6 separate regions of the Homo sapiens genome follow, and regions 1, 2, 4, 5 and 6 are each linked to region 3. Evidence: fine-mapped expression QTL. A gene starts in region 3. Each other region holds a variant in brackets. All regions are shown on one strand. Distances are from middle to middle. Region 1 overlaps PMM2 (phosphomannomutase 2). Region 2 overlaps CARHSP1 (calcium regulated heat stable protein 1). Region 3 holds the start of PMM2 (phosphomannomutase 2). Region 4 holds the start of LOC100130283 (a long non-coding RNA gene). Region 5 overlaps PMM2 (phosphomannomutase 2). Region 6 overlaps CARHSP1 (calcium regulated heat stable protein 1).

Region 1 (5,015 bases), 30 kb before region 3:
CTCACTTCTACCCCCTATGATTTCATCTCCATGCTGACCAATCAGCAATCCACACCTCCAGAGCCCCTACCCACCAAGTTATCCTTAAAAACTCAAATCCCCAAATTCTTGGAGACTGATTTGAGTAATAATAAAACTCCAGTCTCCTGCACAGCTGGCTCTGTGTGAATTAGTCTATTGCAATTCTCCTGTCTTGATAAATTGGCTGTCTAGGCTGTGGGCAAGGAGAACCTGTGGAGGGGGTTACAAATTTGGGGGCTCATCTGTGATCTCCCTTGTGGCTATCTTCCAGCGATTCAGTAGCCTCCCCAACCCCCCTCACTGGTGATGGATCCAGAGGCCAGCCCAGGCGGCCACCTAGTTCTCTTCGACTGGGGGCTGACACTGGCACCATCTCTACTAATGGGGTGCTGCCAACCCATGGTGTATGGATTTAACTGCAATAAACAGTCCTGGGGAGACGTCCTGTAACTGTAGCCCCATCACAGGGTATCTGTCTGTAGCCCCATCATTGGGTGTCTGCCTGTAGCCCCATCATGGGGCATCTCTAGCTCTATTAGGTGGTATCTGTTTGTAGCCCCAGCATGGGGTATCTGCCCTAATTGTACAGAGAATAGGGGACTTGTTTGGAGGAATACTCTTGGTTTGTGATTTAGTCTGGAAACTCTTTCTGGAAGGTGTTTTGCTGTATGTGTTTGTATATGTGGAGGAGATGTCTAAGGGAATTGCTGAAGGAAGTCCATCAGGCTCTCCTAGTTTGTCTGGTTGGTCACATTCACTGAACCCTGAAGGACTTGTCAGCAGAAGCTCGGAAGTTTGACAGGGCTGCCTCGAGGGTGACCATCCGCTCTTCCATCTGGCTCAGAGACCATCCTTTGAATTCCCGGTGGAAGGCGTCCCTTCCCACCTTGAGTGGAGTGGATCAAAGATGACAGAGACCAACGGGAGCAAGTGTGAGCCTTGCCAAGTTGATGCTGGGCACTGAGCATAGTGACTAGTTTTGTCATGTGTACTCTGCTCTGGCCAGGATGGAAAATGTTAATTCAGTTCCCCATGCAGCCCATTGGGCAGCATCTTGAAAAATTGAGAGGCTTTTGCCTGTGGTTCCATAAAACAGAAACGGATGGTTTTCCTTTGCAATGCGACTTGGCGCCCACAGCTAGCGTGCAGCGATCAGGGTCATCAAGAGCTGCTCCGTTCTTCTGGAAGCTACAGAGAATGGGAACCCAGAAACCTGACATGCAGGCAAAAAGGGTAAACATTTCTTACCAGCCAGGCTTCTGGCCCCTCTCGCCGTGTATGAATGGAAAACATCACTGTTTGTCTCCTCTGCAAGGGTCTGATTAATAGAAAAAATCTTATGAGCCTAGACTTAGGCTGTAGGGAATCTGGTGCACTCTGTGCTGTGAATACAAATCCCCAGCTACTCTGGAGGCTGAGGCAGGAAAATCACTGGAACCCGGTGGGTGGAGGCTGCAGTGAGCTAAGATCGCACCACTGCACTCCAGCCTGGGCAATAGAGTGAGACTCCATCTCAAAAGAAAAAAGAAAAACAAAGACAAAGGCACAACCAGCTCTCACATGCCTCAGATGAATCACACATCCTCTCTCCTCACTCAGTGACTTAGGAGGGGGAGTCAGTATTCACACATTAATACGACACACCTTTCTAGAACACCTACTACCTGCCAAGCATTGCTTTAGTAGCTGGAGATACAGCGCAAACCAAACCCACTCACAGCTGCATCCTCTGTCATGGAGAGCAGGACCACAGAATAGGATGTGGACATAGGACCCCTCTAAGCCCGCTGTTCAATCCAGCCTGGCAGACTGGTCAGTTCCAAACTTTGCTCCAACAAAAACCAGATAAGGTTTCCCTCTTCTCTTGTTTTACGTCCTGAAAAACTTGACTTTGGGACCATGTCAGGGTACCCTCTTTTGGTCTCCGGCATCCAGAGGGCATGAATTTTTGGGTTCATGTCGGTAGCTGGTCTGAGAGGACATGTGACAGTGTCATGTCTAGCCTTAAGAATTATCTTGAGTAAAGTCCTGGATTCCCAGGAAGACCAGTGTAACAGCCTTCAGCTTTAGCTCAGTAGCTGAAGCTTTGCTATTTCACAGTGGTAGCCTGGGTCTGGTTCCCAGCTTACGGAATGGGTGCTCTCTGGTTTGTTATTTATGTAAGTTTTTTTTGTGTGCCATTTATTGATTCTTTCCCCACCATGGACAGCTTGCCTTGAAATCTGCCTTAAATTTTCTTTTCTCTAAACTACGTTTGGGGAGATTCTAAATCTTGTAAAAGAAAAAAACAAAAAACTGCTTACCATCCCTTTGAGACATCTTATACTTCTGTAGTTAAGTCATAATCTTAGATAAGACTTATTAATTTTGCTAGGAGGTTACCTGTGGTAAAGTTCAAAAGCCAGAAATACTGGCTGTCTATCCTGGCTAGAGTCTGGTAATAAGAAATTTAAAAAGATTTTGTAAAAAAAAAAAAAAAAAAAAAGAGTTCTACAGTTAAAATCTGCTTAATTAAAAATGGATATCCAAGTTTTATATATATATATAAATTTATAAATATATATATTTATAAATATATATTATATATAAAACATAATATATATAATATATATCATATATATCATATATTATATAACATATATATAATATATAACATATATATTATATATTATACAATATATATAATATATATTATATAAATATATAAATATGTATAAATATATATAAATATATATATATAAATGTGTGCATATATATATATATATATATATATATATATAT[ATATATATATG/G]CACACATTTAAAAGGCCTTTGTGGGCTGGGTGCAGTGGCTCATGCCTGTAATCCCAGCACTTTGAGAGGCTGAGGCAGGGGGATCACTTGAGGTCAGGAGTTCAAGACCAGCCTGGCCAACATAGTGAAACCCTGTCTCTACTAAAAATACAAAAATTAGCCAGGCCTGGTGGCGTGTGCCTGTGGTCCCAGCTACTCGGGAGGCTGAGGCACGAGAATCACTTGAACCCGGGAGGCAGAGGCTGCAGTGAGCTTAGATCATGCCATTGCACTCTATCTAGCCTGGGTGACAGAGCAAGACTCCATTTCAAAAAAAAATAAAAATAAAAATAAAAAAATAAAAAAAAGGCCTTTGTGCTTTTTCTCTTCCTGGATTTTTTTTTTTTCTTCGAGGAATGAGTTTTTGTTTGTCTTTCTTCTCAGTCAACTGAATTATTTCCCCAGTCTGTCTTCCTGCCACTCTGAATGCCCACATGAGAGGACCTAAGGTACTTTCTGACAGCTGGGGACTCCTTGGGAAAAAGAGAGAAGGCTCCACAGACCCTGTTTTGGGAGAAACTCTGTTTTCCTCATAAAACCCCAAGAAGTGTAAGCAGACAGACCCCTCTCAAAATCTAAGGCTCTGTTCTGTTTTGAATCACATTACTTGGCCTTTTTCACTTTTGAGGGCATCAGGAATTACTTTAGTAGGGGAGAGAGATATGTGAAAAAAGTTGAGGCTATAAAGATGTATTTTTGGTAAGGATGATTATAAAAAAAGAAATTTATATGAGAAAAGATCTTGTATGGTAAATTCTTGTCCTAAAATAGAACGACTGATTATTCACGAAAGAGGGACACATAGGACAAGTCAGACAGTCCAAGCATGGCATAGATGGTCTCTGTGAGTCGTGACAAGATTTGTAAAATGGGGAAAAAAAACCCCTAAAAAATCAGCAAATGAAAAATCTTAACTAATGCATCTTCTTCGGTCTATATATTTATAATGTTGTGTGTGTGATGTTTAAGAGCTGTAATTAATTGGCTTAAAAAATAAGCACTTAAATATTTTTTCAAAGAAATAGCAACTCTAATGCATTTTAGTTCACATGACGTTAGTAATCTTTGGTAAATAAAGATAGTTTTAAAGATTATTGATGAAATAAAACTGTCTTCATTTGGTCTGAATTAGGCAGATCAGATACTGTTTCTGCTGGATGCTTTAAGGTCATAAGTGGCTTCTGTGACTTTTGTAATTGTTCAATTTACCTACTTTAGAGCCATTAGATTCCAGATAAGGCCTGGGGACATATGGAGGTAGCCATGACTCCTAGCTAGGCCAGAGAGAGTCAGACTTTATCTGCAGTTCTGTCCTGTATTCTAGGCTCTGCACTTGGTATGTAATTAAAACTGCTTAAAGACATGGGAATATGGGTTTTTTTAAAAGAGAAAATCTTCTCTAATTTAGAGAGTTTAAAGATTATTTTTGGTTGAAAGACAAAATAAAACTGAAAGTTTAAGCAAATTGTAGGTTTGTGAAAAATTAACTTTGTGAACAACTCTGTGTGTGAGCAAGCTGGCTAAAATCGAAAGGGTATTATTTAATTTTTTCCATAAATTAAATATTAAAAGCATACTGATGCAGGGCCAGAATCTGGGCCCATATATCAAAATAATAGGGTTTTATGCCAGATGCGGTGGCACATGCCTGTAATCCTAGCACTTTGGAAGGCCGACGCAGGCAGATCACGAGGTCAGAAGTTCGAAACCAGCCTGGCCCATATGGTGAAATCCTGTCTCTACTAAAAATACAAAAATTAGCCGGGCGTGGTGGCACACGCCTGTAGTCCCAGCTACTCGGGAGGTTGAGGCAGAAGAATTGCTTGAACCTGAGAGGCAGAGGTTGCAGTGAGCTGAGAATGTGCCACTGCACTCCAGCCTGGGCAATGGAGCAAGACTCCATCTCAAAAAAAAAAAAAAAAATAGTGTTTTATTTTTGAACACTGATTTGTTAACAAACAATTATAAAGGGTTATATAAAAGGTTTACGAAAATGTTACCCTACAGTCAAACTAAAATCGGATACATTTGTTTGTAAAATTTTATTAAAAACTAGCTTTGGCTAGGAGTGGTGGCTCACAACTGTAATCCCAGCGCTTTGGGAGGCTGAGGTGGGCGATCACGTGGGGTCAGGAGTTCAAGACCAGCCTGGCCAACATGGCG
Region 2 (4,383 bases), 55 kb before region 3:
GACCATTGCAACAACCTCTCACCATCTGAAGAGCATTAAAAGCATTTAAAAAGGAGAGGTGCCCACTGGTGGCTGAGTGGAGGTTCCAACCCCATCCCAGGGAGTGGATCAAGGGTGGTATTTCTCCAGCTGCTCAGACACATGGGCTCAACCCACAGAATCCCTCTTCCTCCTGGAGCTGGAGGCCCCAGATTCCCAGATCTGGCCCCCTGGCAGCCTGACAGGGACCTTGCGTGACTTCTCCAAGGCAAATTTCCACCTAAGTGCCCCTTGCGCCTCTCCTGGGGCCTGGGCAAAGCAGTTTTCTAATTCTTGGCTTGGTTGGTTCTAGGGGAGCTGGCTTGAAGTGGGTGGGGAAAGGCGGGGGTGGCGGTCTTTGGATTGGACGGATGTTGCCTTTTGGTGCCTTTGCAGTGGGAGGCGGCATAGCTGCCTGTCTGGGGAAGACAGTTCTCCCAGCACTCCCACCCCTGGGCACAGCAGGCTGGTACTGGGAGGCTGAACCCCTCTTAGAGCCTGACCTTTTCATCTGCCTTCTGGTTGTGTGACCATCACTCAACAGCCATTTCACAGCCCCTGTAATTATGGCGGCGGGGGGCTGGGGTGGTGGTGGTGGGAAGGGCTTGTGGAGAGGACACAGTCTTTGTTTAAAAACTTTGTCCCGATCCATCCAGAAAAGAGTAGGTAGCTTGCATCCTGACAGCCTGGCAAAGTCAAGAAAGTTGAAGGAGAAACATACCTTTGGAGAGGGGGTTTTCTTTAAAACTAGTGTTAAGAAATGCTTAGGGATTTTTTTTTTCTTATTTTTCATAACTAAAGCTTTCACCCAGAGCCGGCTCTGTTTGCACTTTGCTGCCGACATTGCAAACTTTTTGGCAGGGTGGGAGACTGAGTCTCATTCTGTCACCCAGGCTGGAGTGCAGTGGCCCGATCTCAGCTTACTGCAACCTCTGCCCTCCAGGGTTCTGGCAATTCCGCCTCAGTCTCCTGAGTAGCTGGGATTACAGGCATGCGCCACCACACCCGGTTAATTTTTGTATTTTTAGTAGAGACCAGGTTTCATCATGTTGGGCAGGATGGTCTTGAACCCCTGACCTCAGATGATCTGCCCATCTCGGCCTCTCAAAGTGCTGGGATTACAAGTGTGAGCCATCGCGCCCGGCCTGCAAACTTTTTTGTAGGTATTTCTGGTAAACAAATCCTTAGGTTATCTTTGCTGTGGTTGTGGTTTGGCTTTAGTCATGATTTCAAAGTAGAAATAGCTAGGCATTATTTTTTGAAATATATGACCTATATGTAGTCAAGAATCCACTGAACAGAGGCAAGCAAACCTTTTGGAAACTGGCTTTTGGGCAGACAGTAAACGTCCAGTTTGATGCTGGAAGCATGAACAGCTTCATCAGGTAGGTACTCCTCAACTCTGATGAGTTTGTCCTTTCAGCCTAAGGGGGTGGAAGGGAGTTGTTTGAGAATAGCAAATACGCATGTTGATTGCGAGTGTGTGGAGACAAAGGCAGTTCCCACCACAGTTAGGTCCTGGCCATTGTTTCCTC[G/A]CCTGCGATGCTCCTTGTACATCCTCACCCTCCTCTCCCGCCTCTGCCTTCTGCTGGGTCAAAGGTGGCCTTTTCTCTCCAGCCTTGAATTGTTCCCTGTTGGCTTCCCAAGGGCCCATCTGCTGGTACAGTCCACACTTCCACAGCCAAGACCCGAGAGGGCTTTCACTGCCCCAAGCCTCTCTCCTGTGACCCTGGGATTCTGTCTTGGCAGAATCCTTTGTCAGCGGCTCTTACTCTGTCCTTCCTGTTTGGCCACAGCTCTTTCAATCAATGGGTATTCTAGAACCGCAGGATGTCAGAGCTGGAAGGGACGCGATACCGGTTTACACAAGGGGAAACTCCTCGAGGCTCTGGGAGGGACGGAGGGTTTTGGTGACAGAGCGAGAGCTAAAATTGAGGATTCCTGAATCCAGATCTTGCCTCCCATCAGCCATCTTTCTCCCAATAAATTTTTGTTTTGTGCAAGGCTATGCGTGTGTTTGTGTGGAGGCTGGCTCACCAAGTTTTTCCTTTTAAGTCGTCAGATAAGGGTGTCTCCCCCAGGTGAGGCTGACACATTCCACGTGGCAGTCTGTTTTTTTTAGGGGATGGTGAATAAGAAGATGGGATCATCTGTTTTTTAGTCATCATTCTCTAGCATGAGAAAGCTTAGCAGAGAGGAGAATGCGGCTTCCTGGCAATAGAAAATGCCAGTAACTTGGTCAGCGGCGCTCCAGTGCCCTGTTGAAGCTTTTAGGATGTGTGAGTTACACCTCATCCCCATCAGCTGTGGGAAGAGAGGACGGGCCTCGGGGCACACTGTCCACAGTCCCTGGCTCATTCCTGCTATAGAAGTGTTTTTTGTTTGTGTTTTTGAGACAAGGTCTCGCTTTGTTGCCCTGCAGCCTTAACCTTGTGGGCTCAAGTGATCCTCCTTCAGCCACCTGAGTAGCTGGGACTATAGGCATATGCCACCATGCCTGGCTAATTTTTAAATTTTTTGTAGAGAGCAACTTGCTACATTGCCCAAGTTGGTCTCGAAGTCCTGTACTCAGACCATCCTCCTGCCTCAGCCTCCCACAGTGCTGGGACCAGAGGTGTGAGCCACAGCACCCGGCCACTGCTATAGACATTTGATGAACGTTTGCTAGGGCTGGGCACAGTGGCTCACGCCTGTAATCCCAGCATTTTGAGAGGCCGAGGTAGGTGGATGGCTTGAGCTCAGGGGTTTGAGACCAGCTGGGCATCATGGCGAAACATGGTCTCTACCAAAAATACAATTAGCTGGGCATGGTGGCATGAGCCTGTGGTCCCAGTTACTCCAGAGGCTGAAGTGGGAGGATTGCTGGAGCCCAGGAAGTGAAGGCTGCAATGAGCTGTGAATGCACCACTGCACTCCAGCCTGGGTGACAGTGACACCCAGTCTCAAAAAAAAAAAAAAAAAAAAAAAAAAAAGCTTGCTGCTCTTCAGGCATGAAGTCAGGGGCTGGAAGCAGATGAGGCTTGAGGGCCCGGGGCTGGCAGAGTCCTAGGACGGAGAGCTTTTCAAGGTCCATAGCAGGGGAGGAAGGGTTTGCTGTTGGGGCAGTGGGAGTGAGGGCAGAAGGTGGGCAGGTGTAAGAACTCCTGTTCTTGGTTTCCAGGAGAGCAGTGACAGGCAGGGGCCACTCTATGGGGTCGCTGTGCTCTGTTGGGAAGGCTTTGCTCTGGCCGGTGTCTCCCAAGGGAGGCAGTGATTTTGGGTGGTGCAGAGATGGACACTTTTCTTGTCAGTATTATACAATGATTTCCAAAGCATATTGGGAAAAAACCAGCCCATCAAACCTGTTTAGGGAGAGCCTAACGTAGGCACTTAGCTCAAAACAATGAGATTTGCTGACTTACTTACTATATGGAGTACTACATGGGTAGCCAAGGAAGGGTTTGGCAAAAGCTGAAGGTGGGGAGCGGGCGTGGTAGCTCACGCCTGTAATTTCAGCACTTTGGTAACCGAGGTGGGCAGATCACTTGAGGTCAGGAGTTCAAGACCAGCCTAGGCAACATAGTGAAACCCCGTTTCTACTAAAAATACAAAAATTAGCTGCACGTGGTGGTGCATACCAGTAATCCCAGTTACTTGGGAGGCTGAGGCAGGAAAATCACTTGAACCTGGAGGCAGAGGTTGCAGCGAGCCAAGATTGTGCCACTGCACCCCAGCCTGGATAACAGAGTGAGACTCTGTCTCAAAAACAAAAAAAAAGGCCGGGCATGGTGACTCATGCCCATGCCTGTAATCCCAGTACTTTGAGAGGCCAAGGCAGGTGGATCACCTGAGGTCAGGAGTTCAAGGCCAGCCTGGCCAACATGGTGAAACCCCGTCTCTACTAAAAAGACAAAAATTACCTGGGCATGGTGGCAGGGGCCTGTAATCTCAGCTACTCGGGAGGCTGAGGCAGTAGAATTGCTTGAACCGGGGAGGCGGAGGTTGCAGCGAGCTGAGATCGTGCCATTGCACTCCAGGCTGGGCAACAACAGTGACTTGTCTCAAAAACAATAGCAACAACAACAACAAAAAACAAAACTGAAGGTGGGACTGGGAAGACGTTTGGGAAAGCAGCCTCGGGTGAAGGAGGTGGAATGAGTTCTACGTCTTGACTTTGGGGTGCCGTGGCAGGCAGCGTGGAGGTTGCCTGTCGTTCAGGTTGGAGGAGCCTGCCTGGGCTGAGGTGGCCAGCTGGGGCCCAGAGCCAGAACACTTGGGAGGGGTGGAGAGGAAGCAGCAGCCCTTGGAGAGGAAGTGATTCAAAACCACGTATGCCTGGATGTGTCCGGACTACGGCAACATCTGCCCAACTGCCTTCTCCTGGCC
Region 3 (5,015 bases):
GCTCCTATCTAGAAAGAGTGGTCTTAGTGGTATAATCTTATGGTAAATTCCAAACTGTGTGATAATTTTAAAAAAGTTATAAACTAAGATGAAAAAATAGCCCTACATTAAGACACATCACAATGTATTTTTACAAGTCTTATAACTCAGCACTTTGAGCAATCTCAGTTGTACATTTACACTGAATGTCTTTTTTTTTTTTTTTTTGACACGAAGTCGTGCTCTGTCACCCAGGCTGGAGTGCAATGGTGTGGTCTCGGCTCATTGCAACCTCCACTTCCTGGGTTCAAGCGATTCTCCTGTCTCAGCCTCCCAGGTAGCCAGGATTACAGGCGCCCGCCATCATGCTCGGCTAATCTTTTTGTATTTTTAGTAGAGACTGGGTTTCACCATGTTGGCAAGGCTGGTCTCGAACTCCTGACCTCAAGTGATCCACCCGCCTCAGCCTCCCCAAGTGCTGGGATTATAGGCATGAACTACCGTGCCCGGCTGAATATCTTTTTACTAGAAATTTAGAAAATACAAAAAACCATTTAATTCAACCTCAGTATATAAACACTTGGAGTTCAATGATTTTTCTTTAAAAAACTTTTTTAGAGTAATACATGAATGTGATTAAAATTGTACAGAAGGGTTTGTAATAGAGTGCAATCTTTTCTACTCTCACAGTGGAATCTGGACCTATTAGACAGAATCTAGAATTGGAGGAGTGGCCTTTAAAAGTCAGAACACGGTGGCTCACGCCTGTAATCCCAGCACTTTGGGAGGCCGAGGCGGGTGGATCACGAGGTCCAGAGATAGAGACCATCCTGGCCAACACAGTGAAACCCCATCTCTACTAAAAATACAAAAATTAGCCAGGCGTGGTGGTGCCTGCCTGTAGCACCAGCTACTTGGTTGCCTGAGGCAGGAGAATTGCTTGAACCTGGGAGGTGGAGGTTGCAGTGAACTGAGATTGGGCCACTACACTCCAGTCTGGTGACAGAGTGAGACTCTGTCTTAAAAAAAAAAAAAGAGTCAGAACTGTGAAAATCAGAAAATCAGAAGCACTTTCCTGAATGGCATACCCAGTGACTAGAACAGCTTCCACCTTAGCACAGATAGGAAATGGCAAACTTGACAGGAACCAATATCCTGAGGCCCAGAGACTTGTACCAGGTTGGCTGTGTGAAACTGAGGAGGTTAGTTCTTCACTGAGTGTGTTTCCTTATGTTTAAAACGGTAATAACAACTATCCTACCTGGGAAGAAAGATGGAGGAAGGTTGAGAGGGTTCAGTGATATGAAAAAGGGTGGCAATGTAAACCCTAGACCACTATGGCCCACAGACCACATTGGGCAGCTGTTTGTTTTTGTAATAAATAAATAAAATTTTATTGGTACACAGCCACTCTTATTTATATAGGGTTTATGGCTGGTTTTGCACTAAAGTTGAGTGGTTACTATAGACCACATAGTCAGCAAAGACAGAGAAGTATTTGCTATATGGCCCTTTACAAAAAATGAATTGGGGACCGGAGTTTTAGACCACTATGGGCTTTTAACAAACCCAAGTGTGTGATCACTGAATTTCAGAATCAGAAAAAGCCTTTGAAGAACTTGGGAGTTGAGCGTCATCACTAGGTAAATCAAACCTGTGGCTGAGAAGGGCAAAATGATACGTCTAAGGTCACACGCATTTGACCTGGACTTCTGGAGCACACCATTGTTACCACCAAGCGAAAACTATGAGGGGTGAGGGTAGAAGCTGAGGATAGTGAGACCATTGGGGTCCAGTCTCAAGTTGAAATGGCCAGTGTTCAGTGGCCAATTTCTGAAAAGGGGCCAGGAGAGCCTCACCTCAAGGCTGATCGTAACTGAAACTTATCTGTGCCTGTAGCAGCAAAATCTGAAAGTGGAAAGCAAGTTTCCAAGGGCCCAAAGAGGCTCTCAGCGGGCAGCCTGTAATAACCTAGGGCTCCTCCATCTCCCTAGTCCATTGCAGGGGCTGGAGATGGGTGTGGTGGAGGTGGCTACTATTTACTGAGGCCTAGTGTGTTGTGTCCAACATACTTTCAAGAACTTACACAATCTCATTTGATCCTCACAGACACCATATGGAACAGGTAACATCCCCATTTAAAGCTGTAGATGTTGAGGCTCAGAGAGGTTAATGACTCGCTGAAGGTCACACAGATGTCAAGAGGTGAAGATGAGACTCCACTAGGTCGGTTTGACCTGGAAACCTGTTTTTAATATCATGACTCACGGCACAGCCCATTGGTTACAGGATTGGGGCCGACACATAGCTGATAAGGGGGCCTGATCTTGGGTTGAAATCCTGGTCTATCAGTCCCGAGCACTAGCGGTGAGTCCAGATTACATTTTCCAACCTAGCACAAGTTTCCTGCTCTTAAGAGTTCTTCAGCCCCGTCTCATCTTTCCAAGCACCAGAGCTCTTCAAGAGCTGGTTAGGGCCTCCCTCTCATTCCTCCAGTGCACCCAGAATAGGGTTCAGCGCCGTGAGGACGTAGGCGGTCCTTAGCCACCCCTTGGCGCCTACCCTGGGTGGTCGATAGCCCCAACTGGGAACAGCACGGGCTCCGCGTCGGCTGCCAGCAGCCCGCCGGCCGCCACTTACCTGCCGCGGGGCGGTGAGGGTCCCATCCACGTCGAAGAGGCAGAGCGCTGGGCCAGGCGCTGCCATGTCCCCAGTTTCTAGCCGCACCTTACAAGACACGTTGGCACGAGGAACTCGGCCCGGAACTTCCGGGTTCGGCCGCTGAGTCGCAGGGCACGTCGGGAAGAGGAGGGGACTCCGTTCCCATAACGCCTGGGAGTAGCGGCAGCCACGATTCCTGGACCGCAACTCCCAGGGTGCAACGCAGATCACGCCCGCCTTGTACATTCGAGCATGCGCTCTTAGGGGTTCCGGGGGCCGGTGGGATTTACTTCCGGCAGCAGGTGGTGGGGCCATGGTAAGGAGGCGGGTGGCGAGCCTTGAGGGGGTGATGCTCTTTGGGGTCGGGGTCAGGGCTGGGGCGGGCAGGCCCGACGCTCGGGTTTCGGACTCCGAGGATCCGTGGGAGGAAGCTCTGGCGTGTGTTACAGTTCGCTTTTCCCGGGCTTTCTCTTGCCCTCCTTGGGTCACATGCGCACAGTAGTAGTAGCTAAAACTCGCCGAGCTCTCACAGTGCATTAGGTACTAAGTTGAGGACTCTGAAACCATCCTCTGGTTCACTGTGTTCTGAGTCCCCATTTTGAAAGGCGAAGAAACCGAATCTCAGGGGTGTGGAGTAATTTGCTCACAAATTACTGTTGGAGCCAGAATTGGAATAAGAGCTTTTACTGCTTCACTACCCACCTAGTAATACCCTTGTGCTACGTGTTGGGGCCTCCCTGCCTCGCTCCTTCTCCTTCTCCGCTGTTTCCCCTTCCCCAGACTAGGCTAAGAGAAAGCAGCAGTTCCCTCCAGCACCCAAGATAGCATATGAATCAAACAGAGAATTAGAAAGTTTATTGGAATAAATATCTCACAGATTTGTTGCTCGAGTTCCCCACTAAGACACTGATTATTTAGTTTCCTGCTTGGGGAAATGTTCACACCCCCTTGTGGATACATTGTCCAGCCCAGAGTTTGTCCTCCCTGGATATGTTTTGAATTAATGACGGCCGCACCTCCTTTCCTGTATTTATTTGGAATTGCCTGGTGGAAGGAGGACTCTGCTGCACTCACTGACTGTGTGATCTTTGGTAAATATCTTACCCTCTCTGGGCTTAGTTTCCCTAGTGGTAAAGTGGAAATAGTGATAACTATCTTAGATAGCTGTTGTGATGCCCACATGAGATAGCATCTGGCTTTACCCTTCCCTCGTCTGGCAATAACGGTTACCTTGCAGGATTGGCAGAAGCCTTAGAGTATGGTGCTTTGCAGATGTTCACCGTGTGATTAATGTGGTTGAGTTCCATGAGAGAAATGGTCTACTGTCTCCCTTTCAGGCTGCCCTTCTCCGAGCTGTGCGTAGGTTTCGGGGAAAAGCTGTGTGGGAAAGGCCTCTCCATGGGCTGTGGTGCTGCAGTGGGCAGGAGGATCCTAAGAGGTGGGTGGGCAGCAGTTCACCCATCTCGAAGGAGAAACTACCAAACGCAGAGACTGAGAAATTCTGGATGTTTTACCGTTTTGATGCCATCAGAACCTTCGGGTTCCTGTCACGACTGAAGTTGGCACAGACTGCCCTGACAGTGGTAGCTTTGCCACCAGGCTATTACTTGTACTCCCAGGGCCTCCTCACTCTCAACACCGTGTGCCTCATGAGTGGGATATCGGGCTTTGCCCTGACCATGCTGTGCTGGATGAGCTATTTCTTACGGAGACTGGTTGGTATCCTGTATCTGAATGAGTCTGGCACCATGCTGCGGGTGGCCCATCTGAACTTCTGGGGCTGGCGGCAGGACACATACTGTCCCATGGCAGATGTGATTCCCCTGACAGAAACCAAGGACCGGCCTCAGGAGATGTTTGTGCGTATCCAGCGGTACAGTGGGAAACAGACCTTCTACGTCACCCTGCGCTATGGACGCATCCTGGACAGAGAGCGTTTCACACAGGTGTTTGGGGTACATCAGATGCTCAAGTGAACAACTGGGACCTGGACCTCTGGGTAACCCTGGGTCGCCTGGATTAACAGGAAGGCTGAGGGTGTGGGCAAGGCTGAAGAAAGGGGACTGGGTACTTGGAGACTTTGCCTGGGCCCCTGGGAACATGTGTTTTGTGGTGAATAAATTCACAAGGCAAGAGCTGGTGTACAGGTTTAGGAAAAAGGCTCTAAGCAAGTTCTTACAGCACTTGTTTGTGACATTCAGTCAGATAATGGCCAGAAGTTTTTGTTAAGAGCCAGTTCTTAGAAGAACCTATGCCAAGGTCACCCATAGAGTCCATTGGTGTGAAAGAGAAAGGCAAAGAGGTGTGGCGGGGGAGCGTAAGATTTGGAGTCAGAAGTCTCAGTTCTGTCATTTGTCCTGGAGCAGGTTATTGAG
Region 4 (5,015 bases), 50 kb before region 3:
ACTGTCCCTGCCTTATAGGGTTCTGGGTTGGGAAGGGGTATTACTTGAGTTAGTAATGGCTCACACTCACTGTTCAAAGTGCTTTAAATTCCATACACGGTAAGGACTATCCCATTTGACAGAGGAGGAAACTGAGGCGAAGATGAACTCACCTTAAGTCACGCAGCAGCTTGTAGCAGCAGAACTAGGCTTGGGGTCTTGGCAGCTGTGCTCTTACCTGCCATGTGCAGAACCTGCTGCTCTGGGGTCACGCAGAAGGCACCAGGACATGTTGTGCATGCGTCGTTTAGCTGTTATCACTTTACATCCCACCACAGTGCGGGGCAAGCCGATGCCCTTGGAGTAAGCCCCAGGAAGCTGGCCTGGGATGCAATGTGATGACAAAGAAGGTGGAAGGGGAGTGTCAATTCTGACTGCAGAAGGGAGGCAGCAGACAGTGCAGGAGGGGCTCGAGGGGCCTGGGGAGGGTCTCAAGCAGCCACTGTGGGAACTGGGGCAGGGACGGCCCAAACCTCCGCGCATCAGCACCCAGCCTGGCAGACTCGGGGTACTCACCTGAGGGCAGCCCTGTGCAGGCGGTGACACAGCAGCAACCCTCCATCTCCGGTTAAAACAAGTTTGAGTAAGACTCGGTTGTCTCGCTTTGACGCAATACGTTAAGGAAACTTGTAAAGAATGGCAGATCCTGACCCAGTGGGCAGAAAAGCAGCGGGGGAGGAGTCTGTGCATCAGGAACAGCAACATGCAACTCCGCAGAGGGAGGGGCCCCCGATGTGACAGAAATCCAGAGTAAAGAAAGAGTGGCTCTCAGACCTGGAAGGGCTGGGGTTCCATTCCAGAATCTGGGAACATAGGAGGAAAAAGAAATCGGAATGAGAAACAGGAAACAATAAAATCACTTTAATGTGCTACTCTTCACTTTGGAAGGTCATTACAGTATCATTCGACAAGGAAAGATGCCGCTGGATGGCTGTGTCCTGTGAGTCACTGGGATGAGCTGGCTGCTTTCACCCCACCGGATCCGGGGCTCAGACAGTTACAAGCCCGAGTGGCTGGGAGGTTTGGAGGGAACCAGGTTTAGCTGTGATGAAAGCACCTGGCTGTGGGCTGGGAGGCAGGAGTGCAGGGCAGCCTGGGCTCCCCTGGCCCCAGACTCAGGTCGGCAAGTGCCCAGTGGAGGCCACACAACCCCAGCACCAAGCAATGGAGGGTGTATGGCTCAGTGTTTCCACATCCTGAAAAGTGACACATGAACCGTTTCCTAGGAAAGTTCTCTTCCACCGTGTTCTAGCTGAGACCCGGGATCCTTCCAGTTTCACGAAGAACGTGCAGAAGATGAAAAGAGTGAGGGACGCGGACCTAGCTGTAGCTGCACTCAGCCGCCTCCGTGGTAAAGTCTGGGTGAAGGCCTGGGTGAGTGCAGATAGGAGAGCAGCTCCTCTTACTGTTCTCTGGCTGGGCTCTCGCTCCATCCCTGAGAAACTAGAGGCGAACGCCTCCAGGAAGCCAGCCAGGGGCAACCAGAAAGTCCTTTTGGTGAAGTCTGACATCCCGCGTTGGTTTCTCTGGACCTGGGTAAGAACCGGCCCCAGGGCAAGGACTGTTTTGCCAGCACCAACTCTCCAGCCCAGCTGTTGGTTCCCACTACCTCCGGTCTCGGAGACAGAGAAGCAGCCAGGCTATTCTGAGTGTAGTGAACACAGAGCCGGTCCGAATCCGGCCCAGCCGAGGTGCAAACTCCCTAGGGTCTGCTCCCACTTGGCCAGCCATCTGTCCAGCAGGCCTCAGCCCCAAACACGGGAAAACGCAGAGTGCGTCTAGTCACTGGGTATCACACTGCCCCACTCACAGCCCCCATCAAGGTGACATGCAGGCGGGAGCTTCGTTCCAGGAGGTGTTTGTAAACTTCGTCCTGGGCTGGGTCACTGCAGATGGCCTGTCCTGGTTTCTCATTACCAAACCCCCATGTTTGGTATTGATGCAGGGGCCCATTAAAAAAACCGCTTATGTTTCCACAGACCCACCAAGAGGGAGGGTCCAGGCACAGTTTTTCTTTCTGTATCATCCTAGAATGATGGGGAAATTTCCGCCAAAACTACATGATTGCACGTATCAGGGTGGGTATTAGACTAG[G/T]GGGCTGGGGGTGGGTGGGGAAGACCTTTTGTGCGAGGCATTCCTCTGGGCCATTCTTGACAAGAGTTTTCTCCTTCCTTCTGGAAGTTTCTGGCACTGGAGGTGGAAGTCCAGACTGCACATGCCTGGCATAGCATGCAGAGCCTGCCTAGGCTGCGGGTGGGTGAGCACGTGTGGGAGGACCCTCGGCTCTGGCCACCGAATGCCCTATGCTGGCTTGTCAGCCGGGACCCCGCCCCTCCCGCTCCCACGTTAGGAGAACAGCAGTTCACAGATCCTGCGCGTGTCCTCAGGCGCTGTCACGGAGTAGCCCATGGTTCTGGGGTCTGTGAAGATCTCATGGTCATTGCCACCCTGGAAAGACACGAAGTACAGATGAAGGCTCCCCCTCGTCTGTCCCGGGCCATTGCTGATGTGACCCTGGAGTCCAAAAGTACCCAAAAAACAAGATTTAACTGGGCAGGGAGAGTTTCTTCAGCTACCTTCCTCTTAGTTTCCAGGAGAGGAACGTGAGTACAATTGTTATTAAGAAGAGATTTATAACCTTCTCTTGAACTGCAATTTGGCTTGGAACACGTAATTATGCCTATGAGAGCCATCACGATGTTCTTGCGAAGATCTGTCTAAGGCTTATTTTTCTACACAGAAGGCATCAGCGAGTGACAGTATTCTCACAGCCATCAGTTTTTTTTTTTTTTTTAGCTGTACCTACGCTTTTCTAACAAGTCACAAGGGAGCGTCAGGAGGGCAGAGGGCCGGGAGCAGGGCTGCCAGGGATATTCCTGTGATGAGGGACGTGGCGACATCAGCGGTGATGGCAGCCACTGGCCATGTGTCACTCTGCACACTTGAAACGTGGCCAATGCAATGGAGGAACTCAGTTAATTTGATTTTAATTTAAACAGCCCCACGTGGGCCGGGCATGGTGGCTCATGCCTGTAATCCCAGCACTTTGGGAGGCTGAGAAGGGTGGATCACTTGAGGTCAGGAATTTGAGACCAACCTGGCTAACACAGCAAAACTCCATTTCTACTTAAAATACAAAAATTAGCTGGGCATGGTGGCGCACGTCTGAAATCCCAGCTGCTCGGGAGGCTGAGGCAGGAGAATTGCTTGAACTCGGGAGGTGGAAGTTGCAGTAAGCCGAGATCGCACCACTGCACTCCAGCCTGGGCGACAAAGGGAGACTCTATCTTAAATAAATAAATAAATGGCCCCACATGACTGGGGTCTGAGCTGCTGGCTAAAAGCAGGGTCTCTGGAACAGGTGGCCTGGGTCAGATGCTGGTTCTACCACTGAGCAGCAGTGTGGCTGCGCCAACTCCCCATCTCCAAAATGGGGTCATGATGGAAGCTTGCTCACAGCTCTGTGGCCAGAAGTTCAGGAGATGATGGTTGGGGTCACACCTTGGTAAGATGACGAAACCGAGGCCTCAGAAAGTCTGCAAGGGCCCATGTCTAGGAGGACCTGGGCATGTTCTGCTGGGGTCCTGTGCCTGAGTTGAGTGCTCCCATCTGTGTCCCCATCACCCCCACCAATCCCACTGGGCTCACGTTAATGAATCAGGTTATCTGCCGCTCCCGCAACCCCGAGCCCTGCAGGAAAGCCCCCGTTTTTCTCATGGAATTCCTTTATTTCCCTCATAAAATTGGATAATCACTCTAACTCAAAACCTTAAAATAATCTACGATTGCTTTACAATACAATGAACACAACCGTAGAAAAAAGGGATTTTTCTCATAAAGCACCGAGCATGAAGCCAACGTGGAAACCATGATTTTGTACCAAAAATCTGACATCCTTTAAAAGAATTAATTGCCTCTGGAAATGAGTGTTTTCATTTTTGCAAGAACCTATCCCCAGGCAGATGGCCTCCTCAGGTGGAGGTGAATTTCAGGCTTCAGGAGGGAACGTCGCTGGGCCCAGGGAGTGCTGGGTGGAGTCAGGTTAGGAGGCCATGAACTTGGCATCTCTTCCAGTCCAGCCACTTGGGAACCTGTCAGGGCCTTGTACTGGCCTTACACAGTTTTGTACCAGGCCTGGGGGCCTTCAGACAGACCTGAATTGCATGGCCACCATCTGCTACCTACACATGTGAAATCAGTTCTGGTAATTCTGATTTTGCCTTTTTTTTCCTTCGGACATAGGGTCTTGCTATGTTGCCCAGGCTGGGCTCGAGCGAACCTCCTGCCTCAGCCTCTCGAGTAGCTGAGACAAAGACTGTGTCCAACAGTGCCAAGCTAGTTCCAGTAATTCTTCTAATTAAAAAAAAAAAAAAAAAGATTTCTTTCAGGAATGGCACAGTGGGTAAAAGTCACAGAGAACCTAACAAAGGCACAACCTAGCTGGGTGTGGTGGTGCGCACCTGTAATCCCAGCTGCTTGGCAGGAGAATCACTTGAACCTGGGAGGCGGAGATTGCAGTGAGCCAAGAACAGACCACTGTACTTCAGCCTGGGCAACAGAGCGAGACTCAAAAGAAAAAAAAACAAACAAAAAACCAAAGGCACAACCAACTCTCACATGCCTCAAAAGAGCCAAACACCCTCCCCGCCTCAGTGACTGAGGAGGGGAGTCAGTATTCACACATTAACACAACACACCTTTCTAGAACACCTACTGTCAGGCCTCTGAGCCCAAGCCAAGCCATCGCATCCCCTATGACTTACACGTGTACATCCAGATGGCCTGAAGTAACTAAAGATCCACAAAAGAAGTAAAAATAGCCTTAACTGATGACATTCCACCATTGTGATTTGTTTCTGCCCCACCCGAACTGATCAATGTACTTTGTAATCTCCCCCACCCTTAAGAAGGTTCTTTGAAATTCTCCCCACTCTTGAGGATGTACTTTGTGAGATCCACCCCTGCCCGCAAAACAT
Region 5 (5,015 bases), 42 kb before region 3:
AAACCTAATCACCCTTACCCCGCTCAACGCCAATATCCCATCCCACAGCACGCTTTAAAAGGATTAAAGCCTGTTATCACTGGCCTGCTACAGCATAGGCTTCTAAAACCTATAAACTCTTCTTATAATCCCCCCATTTTACCTGTCCAGAAACCGGACAAGTCTTACAGATTAGTTCAGGATCTGCGCCTTATCAACCAAATTGTTTTGCCTATCCACCCTGTGGTGCCCAACCCATACACTCTTTCATCCTCAATACCTTCCTCCACAACTCACTATTCCACACTTGATCTTAAAGATGCTTCTTTCAGCGTTCCCCTGCACCCCTTGTCCCAGCCTCTCTTTGCTTTCACCTGGACTGACCCTGACACCCATCAGTCCCAGCAGCTTACCTGGGCTGTGCTGCCACAAGGTTTCAGGGACAGCCCTCATTACTTCAGCCAAGCTCTTTCTCATGATCTACTTTCTTTCCACCCCTCCGCTTCTCACCTTATTTAATATATTGATGACCTTCTTCTTTGTAGCCCCTCCTTTGAATCTTCTCAACAAGACACACTTCTGCTCCTTCAGCATTTACTCTCCAAAGGATATCAGGTATCCCCCTCCAAAGCTCAAATTTCATCCTCATCTGTTACCTATCTCGGCATAATTCTCATAAAAACACACGTGCTCTGCCTGTTGATCTTGTCTGATTAATCTCCCAAACCTCAATCCCTTCCAAAACAACAACTCCCTTCCTTCCTAGGCATGGTTAGTGCGGTCAGAATTCTTACACAACAGCCAGGACCACACCCTGTAGCCTTTCTGTCCAAACAACTTGACCTTACTGTTTTAGCCTAGCCCTCATGTCTGCGTGCAGCGGCTGCCGCTGCTTTAATACTTTTAGAGGCCGTAAAAATCACAAACTATGCTCAACTCACTCTCTACATTTCTCATAACTTCCAAAATCCATTTTCTTCCTCATACCTGATGCATATACTTTCTGCTCCCCGGCTCCTTCAGCTGTACTCACTCTTTGTTAAGTCCCACAATTACCATTGTTCCTGGCCCGGACCTCAATCTGGCCTCCCACATTATTCCTGATACCACACCTGACCCCCATGACTGTGTTTCTCTGATCCACCTGACATTCACCCCATTTCCCCATATTTCCTTCTTTCCTGTTCCTCACCCTGATCACGCTTGATTTATTGATGGCGGTTCCACCAGGCCTAATCGCCACATAGCAGCAAAGGCAGGCTATGCTATAGTACAAGCCACTAGCCCGCCTCTTAGAACCTCTCATTTCCTTTCCATCGTGGAAATCTATCCTCAAGGAAATAACTTCTCAGTGTTCCATCTGCTATTCTACTACTCCTCAGGGATTATTCAGGCCCCTTCCCTTCCCTACACATCAAGCTTGAAGATTTGCCCCCACCCAGGACTGGCAAATTAGCTTCACTCAACATGCCCCGAGTCAGATAACTAAAATACCTCTTAGTCTAAGTAGACACTTTCACTAGATAAGTAGAGGCCTTTCCTACAGGGTCTGAGAAGGCCACCGCAGTCATTTCTTCCCTTCTGTCAGACATAATTCCTCAGTTTAGCCTTCCCACCTCTATACAGTCTGATAACGGACCAGCCTTTACTAGTCAAATCACCCAAGCAGTTTCTCAGGCTCTTAGTATTCAGTGGAACCTTCATATCCCTTACAGTCCTCAATCTTCAGGAAAGGTAGAACGGACTAATGGTCTTTTAAAGGTACACATCACCAAGCTCAGCCTCCAACTTAAAAAGGATTGGACAGTACTTTTACTTCTTGCTCTTCTCAGAATTAGAGCCTGTTCTCGAGATGCTACAGGGTAGGTACAGTCCATTTGAACTTTTATATGGACGCACTTTCTTGCTTGGCCCCAACCTCATCCCAGACACCAGCCCTCTAGGCGACTGTCTTCCAGTCCTCCAGCAGGCTAGACAGGAAATTCGCCAGGCTGCTAAGCTTCTCTTGCCTACTCCAGATCCCCAGCCATATGAAGACACCCTAGCTGGACGATCAGTTCTTGTTAATCTGACTCCTCAAACTCTACAACCTCGATGGACCGGACCCTACTTAGTCATCTATAGTACCCCGACTGCTGTCCGCCTGCAGGATCCTCCCCACTAGGCTCACCGTTCCAGAATAAAGCTGTGTCCATCGGACAGCCAGCCTAATCCCTCCTCTTCCTCCTGGAAGTTGCAAGTACTCTCCCCTACTTCCCTTAAACTCAGTCGTATTTCGAAGAACAGTCATAACCCTTATGAGCCTAATACATCCCTTCATTCTATTAGGTTTTTCGTCCTTACCCTACTTTTTGCAACAGGGCTTTACGAAGTCACCCCCACCACTTAGGCCGAGCCCCAAAAAACTAGTCATCCCTACTATCTTCTGTCTGGTCATACTCCTATTCTCCATTCTCAACTACTTATAAATGCCCTACTCTTGTTTACACGGCCG[G/C]TTTACACTGTTTCTTCAAGCCATCACAGCTGATATCTCTTGGTGCTATCCCCAAACTGCCACTCTTAACTCCCTCTTAGAGTGGATAGATGATCTTTGCTGGCAAGGCACCCTCCAATATTTCCACCCTGATGAAGTTCTATTCTTTACTTTTATACTCACTCTTATTCTCATTCCCATTCTTATGCCACCCTCTACCTCTCCCCAGCTATCTCCACCACACTATCAACCTTACCCATTCTCTCCTAGCCGCTTCTAATCCCTCCTTAGTGAACAACTGCTGGCTTTGCATTTCCCTTTCTTCCAGTGCCTACACAGCTGTCCCCACCTTACAGACAGACTGGGCAACATCTCCCATCTCCCTACACCTCCGAACTTCCTGTAACAGCCCTCACCTTTACCCTCCTGAAGAACTCATTTACTTTCTAGACAGGTCCAGCAAGACTTCCCCAGACATTTCACATCAGCAAGCTGCCGCCCTCCTTCACACTTATTTAAAAAACCTTTCTCCTTTCTCCTTTCTCCCCCCATATTCGGACCTCTCACAACACAAACTACTATGCCTGTGGCCGCTCCTATATGTATCTCTCGGCAAAGACCCACTGGAATTCCCCTAGGTAATCTTTCACCTTCTCGATGTTCCTTTACTCTTCATCTCCAAAGTCCAACTACACACATCACTCAAACAATGGGAGCCTTCCAGCTCCATATTACAGACAAGCCCGCTATCAATACTGACAAACTTAAAAACATTAGCAGTAATTATTGCTTAGGAAGACACTTGCCCTGTATTTCACTCCATCCTTGGCTACTTTCCCCTTGCTCATCAGACTCTTCCTCCCAGGCCCTCCTCTTGTTTACTTTTACCCAGCCCCGAAAATAATAGTGAAAGGTTGCTTGTAGATACTCAACGTTTTCTCATACACCATGAAAATCGAACCTCCCCCTCTATGCAGTTACCCCATCAGTCCCCATTACAACCTCTGACAGCTGCCGCCCTAGCTGGATCCCTAGGACTCTAGGTACAAGACACCCCTTGCAGCACTCCTCATCTTTTTACTTTACATCTCCAGTTTTGCCTCGCACAAGGTCTCTTCTTCCTCTGTGGATCCTTTACCTAACATGTGTCTACCTGCTAATTGGACAGGCACATGCACACTAGTCTTCCTTACTCCCAAAATTCAATTTGCAAATAGGAACGAAGAGCTCCCTGTTCCCCTCATGACACCGACACAACAAAGAAGAGTCATTCCACTAATTCCCTTGATGGTCGGTTTAGGACTTTCTGCCTCCACTATTGCTCTCGGTACTGGAATAGCAGGCATTTCAACCTCTGTCATGACCTTCCGTAGCCTGTCTAATGACTTCTCTGCTAGCATCACAGACATGTCACAAACTTTATCAGTCCTCCAGGCCCAAGTTGACTCTTTAGCTGCAGTTGTCCTCCAAAACCACCGAGGCCTTGCTTACTCACTGTTGAAAAAAGAGGACTCTGCATATTCTTAAATGAAGAGTGTTGTTTTTACCTAAATCAATCTGGCCTGATGTATGACAACATAAAAAAACTCAAGCATAGAGCCCAAAAACTTGCCAACCAAGCAAGTAATTACGCTGAACCCCCTTACGCACTCTCTAATTGGATGTCCTAGGTCCTCCCAATTCTTAGTCCTTTAATACCCATTTTTCTCCTTCTTTTATTTGGACCTTGGATCTTCTGTTTAGTTTCTCAATTCATCCAAAACTGTATCCAGACCATCACCAATCATTCTATACAACAAATGTTTCTTCTAACATCCCCACAATATCACCCCTTACCACAAGACCTCCCTTCAGCTTAATCTCTCCCACTCTAGGTTCCCACGCCGCCCCTAATCCCGCTTGAAGCAGCCCTGAGAAACATCGCCCATTCTGTCTCCATACCACCCCCCAAAAATTTTCACCGCCCCAATACTTCAACACTATTTTATTTTTCTTATTAACATAAGAAGGCAGGAATGTCAGGCCTCTGAGCCCAAGCCAAGCCATCGCATCCCCTATGACTTGCACGTATACATCCAGATGGCCTGAAGTAAATGAAGATCCACAAAAGAAGTAAAAATAGCCTTAGCTGATGACATTCCACCATTGTGATTTGTTTCTGCCCCACCCGAACTGATCAATGTACTTTGTAATCTCCCCCACCCTTAAGAAGGTTCTTTGTAATTCTCCCCACTCTTGAGAATGTACTTTGTGAGATCCACTCCTGCCCACAAAACATTGCTCTTAACTTCACCGCCTATCCCAAAACCCATAAGAACTAATGATAATCCACCACCCTTTGCTGACTCTCTTTTCGGACTCAGCCCGCCTGCACCCAGGTGAAATAAACAGCCATGTTGCTCACACAAAGCCTGTTTGGTGGTCTCTTCACACGGACGCGCATGAAACACTTCAATCTCTCCCTTAATTTCAATTCCTTTCATTTTCTGGTAGAGACAAAGGAGACACATTTTATCTGTGGACTCAAAACTCCGGCGCCGGTCAGAGACTGGGAAGGCAGCCT
Region 6 (5,015 bases), 62 kb before region 3:
TCTCCCCCTATCCCCTTCTGTCTGTTTCTTTACAGCCCTTTTGGGATCTGTAATGATCTGGTTTATGTTTATTTAACTGTTTATTCTCTGGCTTCAAGTTCAGCCCTTTGTCTCTGGGGCCTTGAACAGGGCTCGGTATTGGGCACGTGTCTGTTGAGTGCCTTTATGATGACAATTATAACAACAGTCGTAGCTGACAATTACTGCTCACTGGACCTGGGCGGACAGTGTGCCCAGTGCTTAGTGTGTATTATTTTGTTTTCAGTTCAGCCTGATGGTGTGAAATCGGGACTATTATAATTCCCATTTTCCAGATGTGGAAACTGAGGCCCAGAGAGATTAAGTAACTTGTACAAGACCACACAGCAGGCAAGGGGTAGGATTAGAAGTCAGCTATGCTTCATTAGCCGGGCGTGATGGCGGGCACCTGTAACCCCTGCTACTTGGGAGGCTGAGGCAGGAGAATCACTTGAACCCAGAAGGTGGAGGTTGCAGTGAGCCGAGATTGTGCCATTGCACTCCAGCCTGGGCGACAGCAGGACTCCATCTCAAATTAAAAAAAAAAAAAAAAAAAAAAAAAAAAGTCAGCTATGCTTGACTCCAGGAGAAAGGAGGGAGGGAGACTTTGGATAGAACAAGGCAGGGCAGTGTCTCTAACTGTGGAGTTGCGAGGCCACTGCTCCCATCTGCTGTCCTGGGAGGCCTGGACAGGGCCCTCCCCTCCCAGGGCCAGCCTCTTTCCTGGAACTCTGGGCGTTGAACATTCTAGGACTCTATGACCTGTGCTGGTAGGTCATGCGGGGGCCCTGGCCCCCAGGCCAGCAGCTGGGGCCTTTTTGAGGTGGGGGCTCCCCGGACTCAGGAGTTCCTCCTTGGCCGCGGCTGTAGCTGAGAGAAGGGACAGGAGGTAGGATGCCACCTCCTCCAGAAGGCAAGCCAGCCACCAGCTTCCCAGCCCGACAGAACTGAGGCCCAACGGGAGAGTGCAGCAATGTCTGGGGAGGGGTTCTGACATTTCAGGGATGGGGCATCCCTTCTCCTCTGAGCAGTCGGGCCTGGTTCTTGGGTGGCTATGCTTGAAGGCGGTTCGGGGGGTGCGGTGGGATTTTTGGGTGATGTAGGTTGAAGACTCCTATAAATGAGGGGACTGGGGGGGCAAACTGAGGTTGAAGGTTGTGAGAGCTTCATTTCTTTCCATGAGCAGCTGGAAACCTGGATTTTGAGGAAACCCCCTGGGATGTTTAAGATAGTTCAGGCCGGGCATGGTGGTTCATGCCTGTAATCCTAGCACTTTGAGAGGAAGAGGTGGGAGAATCCGTTGAGCCCAGGAGTTTGAGATCAGCCTGGGCAACATAGTGATACCCTGTCTCTATAAAAAAAAAAAAAAAAAAAAAAAAAAAAAAAAAAAAAAAAATTAGGCATGGAGGTCAAGGCTACAGTGAACTGTGATTATGCCACTGCCCTCCAGCCTGGGTGACAGTGAGACACTGTCTCAAAAAAATAAAAGTTATTTATTTTTTTTTGAGACGGAGTCTCACTCTGTCACCCAGGCTGGAGTGCTGTGGTGTGATCTCGGCTCATTGCAACCCACAGCTCCCTGGTTCAAGCAATTCTCCAGCTTTGGCCTCCCGAGTAGCTGGGATTACAGGCACCCACCACCACGCCCAGCTAATTTTGTATTTTTAGTAGAGACTGGTTTTCACCATGTTGGCCAGGCTGGTCTCCAACTCCTGACCTCAGGTGATCCACCTGCCTCTGCCTCTCAAAGTGCTGGGATTACAGGTGTGAGCCACCGCACCTGGCCCATGCTTCAAATCTAAATTTGAAAACCCCATGGGACCTGAGTCAAACCGATCCAGGGCTGCTGCTGTCCCTCCCGGCTGTGTGGTGTTGAGTGGCGTCCTGAGTTAGTTAGGCTTCTCCCTACTTCATCTCGTACCCCCATCACCAGCCCTGCGCAGGTGCCAAGTGATGCCCACCCAGCTGCCCCACTTTGCAGATTCGGAAACTGAGCCCAGAGATGGGAAAGGACTTACCCAAGGGCCTCTGACTGCTGGACTGTTTCTCTTTCCCCTGAACCTCGAGCTGAGGCCACGTTAGAGCCGACACCTTCATATTCAATGTTCAGTGATTATTGTGTACAGCGAGTGTCCTGCTCTTGAAAAATTGTCAAAAGCACAGCAGCAGCTAGGGAATTCCCGCCCTCCAGCTGGATTTACCGGTACATACTAGGGGTCACAGAAGGAATTTGATTTCATAACAGCGTGGTGACCCGGGCTGTGTGGAAATTCACTGGGCCTGATGGAGCTGGATGCAGCCTTGGAAATTCTCCCTTTCCCTTTGGGCTCTCGCAGCAGGCCCCCCAGTCCTGGGTGCAGGCTTGTGACAGCTGCTCAGGGATCCAAACGTGGCGCTTGAGCTCTCTGCGACGTGTTCCACAGTTCCCTGGAGGCGGACACTGCGTGAGGGTCAGTTTTTGCCCCTGCTTCCCTGTGGTGTCTGGCTCCCAGCAGCGTCAGGGAGGGTCCGTGGAGTGGCTGAGTTTGGATCTAGGTGGTTGGCATTAAAATCTCCCTGGCTTTG[G/A]GTTTTCTTTTTTGAGACAGAGTCTTGCTCTGTAGCCCAGGCTGGAGTGCAGTGGTGCGATCTCAGCTCACTGGAACCTCCGCCTCCCAGGTTCAAGCAATTCTCATGCCTCAGCCTTCAAGTAGATGGGATTACAGGTGCCTGCCACCATGCCCAGCTAATTTTTGTATTCGTATTAGAGACTGGGTTTCCCCATGTTGGCCAGGCTAGTCTCGAACTCCTGACATTAAGTGATCCGCCTGCCTCGGCCTCCCAGAGTGCTGGGATTGCAGGTGTGAGCCACTGCGCCCGGCCCCTGGCTTTGGGTTTTCTGCTCACCTTCCTCCTTCCCTCCCACAAATACTATGTGTCCCAAATGTGCCGGGATCCATGCCTTGTGCTGGGGACACAGAGGGGACCGATGCCATCCTGGTCATGGGGGAGGATGTGGCATTTTCATGAAGAGCTATGATCGAGGGGGCCCCACGGTTGCTTCAGGAGCCCAGAGTAGGCATCTGACCCTGCCAGGCGTGCTCCCAGACAAGGTGACAATGGTGCTGAGGTGCCCGAGAGGAATGAGCCTCAGATACTGGACTGTCAGACGTGGACATGGGGGTAAGCACAGGGTCCCTACCTTGCAAGGCACGAGCCCCTGACAGCCTCTTCTCTTTCCAGGTCAGCCATGTCATCTGAGCCTCCCCCACCACCACAGCCCCCCACCCATCAAGCTTCAGTCGGGCTGCTGGACACCCCTCGGAGCCGTGAGCGCTCACCATCCCCTCTGCGGGGCAACGTGGTCCCAAGCCCACTGCCCACTCGCCGGACGAGGACCTTCTCGGCGTGAGTCTGGAGCAGGCTGGGGACGCGTTCTCAGATGGATCTCTTGCCTGAGGCCAGAGATTCACTGTGTCTCTGGCCATTTTTGGGCCTATGTCCCGGACTGCCAAATAGGCAGACCTGGGGCTGGGCCGTGGGCTGAGGGTGAGAAACTAGGAAGGCGCCTTGTAAATTCAGGGTACTGCCCAGCCCAGAAGAACCTGTTACCAGCTGGGAGTGGCAATGGGTGGGCAGTTGCTGGGGTCAGAATCGCTGGGCTTTAACCACACATGAGAGTCTGGTTCCCTGTGAGACTGTGAATTCTGCAGCTGCAAAATGGGCACAGCACCAGGGCTGCAAAGGACCCACATAATGCCTGGCAGATGCAGGTCTCAGGCCTTGCGAGTGGAGGATGCTTGTGTTATTAATAGTAAATCATTAGTTTCTGGAGGGATGTTCAGTGATGTTTTAGTTCAACTCCCTCTTTCCAGGAGGGAAAACAGGCCCGAGAAAATTGGCCAGGGTCATCCAAAGAGTCCTTTCCCCCAGCGTCTTTGTGAGCGGCTCCCAGGGTTGAGGGTTGTGCAGTCCTCAGCCTGTGTGACTGTACATGGCGGTCCTGGCCAGGGCTTGATGGGGCACAGCTGTGGGCAGGGGCTGGAATGAGCTTTGTGTGCCCAGGAGCGCTGATGGGGCCCCTGACATTTCCCCCTCTCTGTCAGGACGGTGCGGGCTTCACAGGGCCCCGTCTACAAAGGAGTCTGCAAATGCTTCTGCCGGTCCAAGGGCCATGGCTTCATTACTCCAGCTGATGGCGGCCCCGACATCTTCCTGCACATCTCTGAGTGAGTCAGCGGCAGGTCTGGGTGGCCTGGCTGGGGTGGGCGCTTCCTTGGCCCTGTGGAGGTGGGGATGGTGTGTGACTCTGATGGGCGCTGGGTGTGAGGACGAATGGCTGGGCCTGTGTGACTCTGCCTGTGGCTGGTGCTCCAGCTGTGCTCCTGTGTGTGTGTTGGGTTGGGGTTGTGAGACTCTACGGAGCTGTGTTGGGGGATGTGAGGCTGGGGGCGACACGGTACTTGTGATTGTCCCTGGGTGTGTCTTTGTGAATGGGTGTGTAAGGTTTTGTGTGTGCTGGGCGTGGTGGCTCACGCCTGTAATCCCAGCACTTTGGGAGGCCGAGGTGGGTGGATCACGAGGTCAGGAGATCCAGACCATTCTGGCTAATGGTGAAATCCCGTCTCTACTAAAAAAACACAAAAAAAATTAGCCGGGCATGGTGGCGGGCACCTGTAGTCCCAGCTACTCGGGAGGCTGAGGCAGGAGAATGGTGTGAACCTGGGAGGCGGAGTTTGCAATGAGCCGAGATTGCGCCACTGCACTCCAGCCTGGGCAACAAGAGCAAGACTCCATCTCAAAAAAAAAAAAAAAAAAATAATGAGCAGGGCGTGGTGACAGGTGCATGTAATCCCGGCTCCTCGGAAGGCTGAGGCAGGAGAATCACTTGAATCCAGGAGGTAGAGGTTGCAGTGAGCCGACATCTCGCCATTGCACTCCAGCCTGAGTGACAAGGGTGAAAGTCCATTTCAAAAAAAAAAAAAAGGATCGGGCATGGTGGCTCACACCTGTAGTCCCAG

The links.
Region 1: its variant is fine-mapped to the expression of PMM2 in whole blood (INTERVAL, PIP above 0.99).
Region 2: its variant is fine-mapped to the expression of PMM2 in whole blood (TOPMed, PIP above 0.99).
Region 4: its variant is fine-mapped to the expression of PMM2 in subcutaneous fat (GTEx, PIP 0.92).
Region 5: its variant is fine-mapped to the expression of PMM2 in whole blood (TOPMed, PIP above 0.99).
Region 6: its variant is fine-mapped to the expression of PMM2 in whole blood (INTERVAL, PIP 0.97).

What each region holds. Positions count from the first base shown.
Region 1 is chr16:8,825,517-8,830,531 of GRCh38, reverse strand. All of the region lies in intron 7 of PMM2 (phosphomannomutase 2), which reads right to left. Among named protein-coding and RNA genes, the nearest start is that of PMM2, 30 kb to the right of the region's middle. RefSeq lists an enhancer at 453-1,054. The variant ATATATATATG/G (reference allele first, on the strand shown) is at 2,803.
Region 2 is chr16:8,850,585-8,854,967 of GRCh38, reverse strand. It overlaps CARHSP1 (calcium regulated heat stable protein 1), which reads left to right. Exons shown (of 4, transcript NM_014316.4): 4 at 1-2,021. It overlaps LOC100130283 (a long non-coding RNA gene), which reads right to left. Exons shown (of 5, transcript NR_147908.1): 3 at 3,918-4,035. Among named protein-coding and RNA genes, the nearest start is that of CARHSP1, 16 kb to the left of the region's middle. The variant G/A (reference allele first, on the strand shown) is at 1,554.
Region 3 is chr16:8,795,553-8,800,567 of GRCh38, reverse strand. PMM2 (phosphomannomutase 2) reads right to left here and starts at 2,729. Exons shown (of 8, transcript NM_000303.3): 1 at 2,620-2,729. The coding sequence starts at 2,685. TMEM186 (transmembrane protein 186) reads left to right here and starts at 2,929. Exons shown (of 2, transcript NM_015421.4): 1 at 2,929-2,956; 2 at 3,978-5,015. The coding sequence starts at 2,954. The coding sequence ends at 4,616. RefSeq lists a silencer at 1,041-1,090 and enhancers at 1,946-2,640, 2,953-3,002, 2,641-3,335.
Region 4 is chr16:8,845,196-8,850,210 of GRCh38, reverse strand. PMM2 (phosphomannomutase 2) reads right to left here. Exons shown (of 8, transcript NM_000303.3): 8 at 886-2,487. The coding sequence ends at 2,386. LOC100130283 (a long non-coding RNA gene) reads right to left here and starts at 742. Exons shown (of 5, transcript NR_147908.1): 1 at 556-742; 2 at 218-362. RefSeq lists an enhancer at 3,130-3,721. The variant G/T (reference allele first, on the strand shown) is at 2,134.
Region 5 is chr16:8,837,854-8,842,868 of GRCh38, reverse strand. All of the region lies in intron 7 of PMM2 (phosphomannomutase 2), which reads right to left. Among named protein-coding and RNA genes, the nearest start is that of CARHSP1, 29 kb to the left of the region's middle. The variant G/C (reference allele first, on the strand shown) is at 2,474.
Region 6 is chr16:8,857,558-8,862,572 of GRCh38, reverse strand. It overlaps CARHSP1 (calcium regulated heat stable protein 1), which reads left to right. Exons shown (of 4, transcript NM_014316.4): 2 at 3,238-3,402; 3 at 4,101-4,223. The coding sequence starts at 3,245. It overlaps LOC100130283 (a long non-coding RNA gene), which reads right to left. Exons shown (of 5, transcript NR_147908.1): 5 at 2,156-2,445. Among named protein-coding and RNA genes, the nearest start is that of CARHSP1, 8.9 kb to the left of the region's middle. RefSeq lists an enhancer at 1,943-2,657. The variant G/A (reference allele first, on the strand shown) is at 2,584.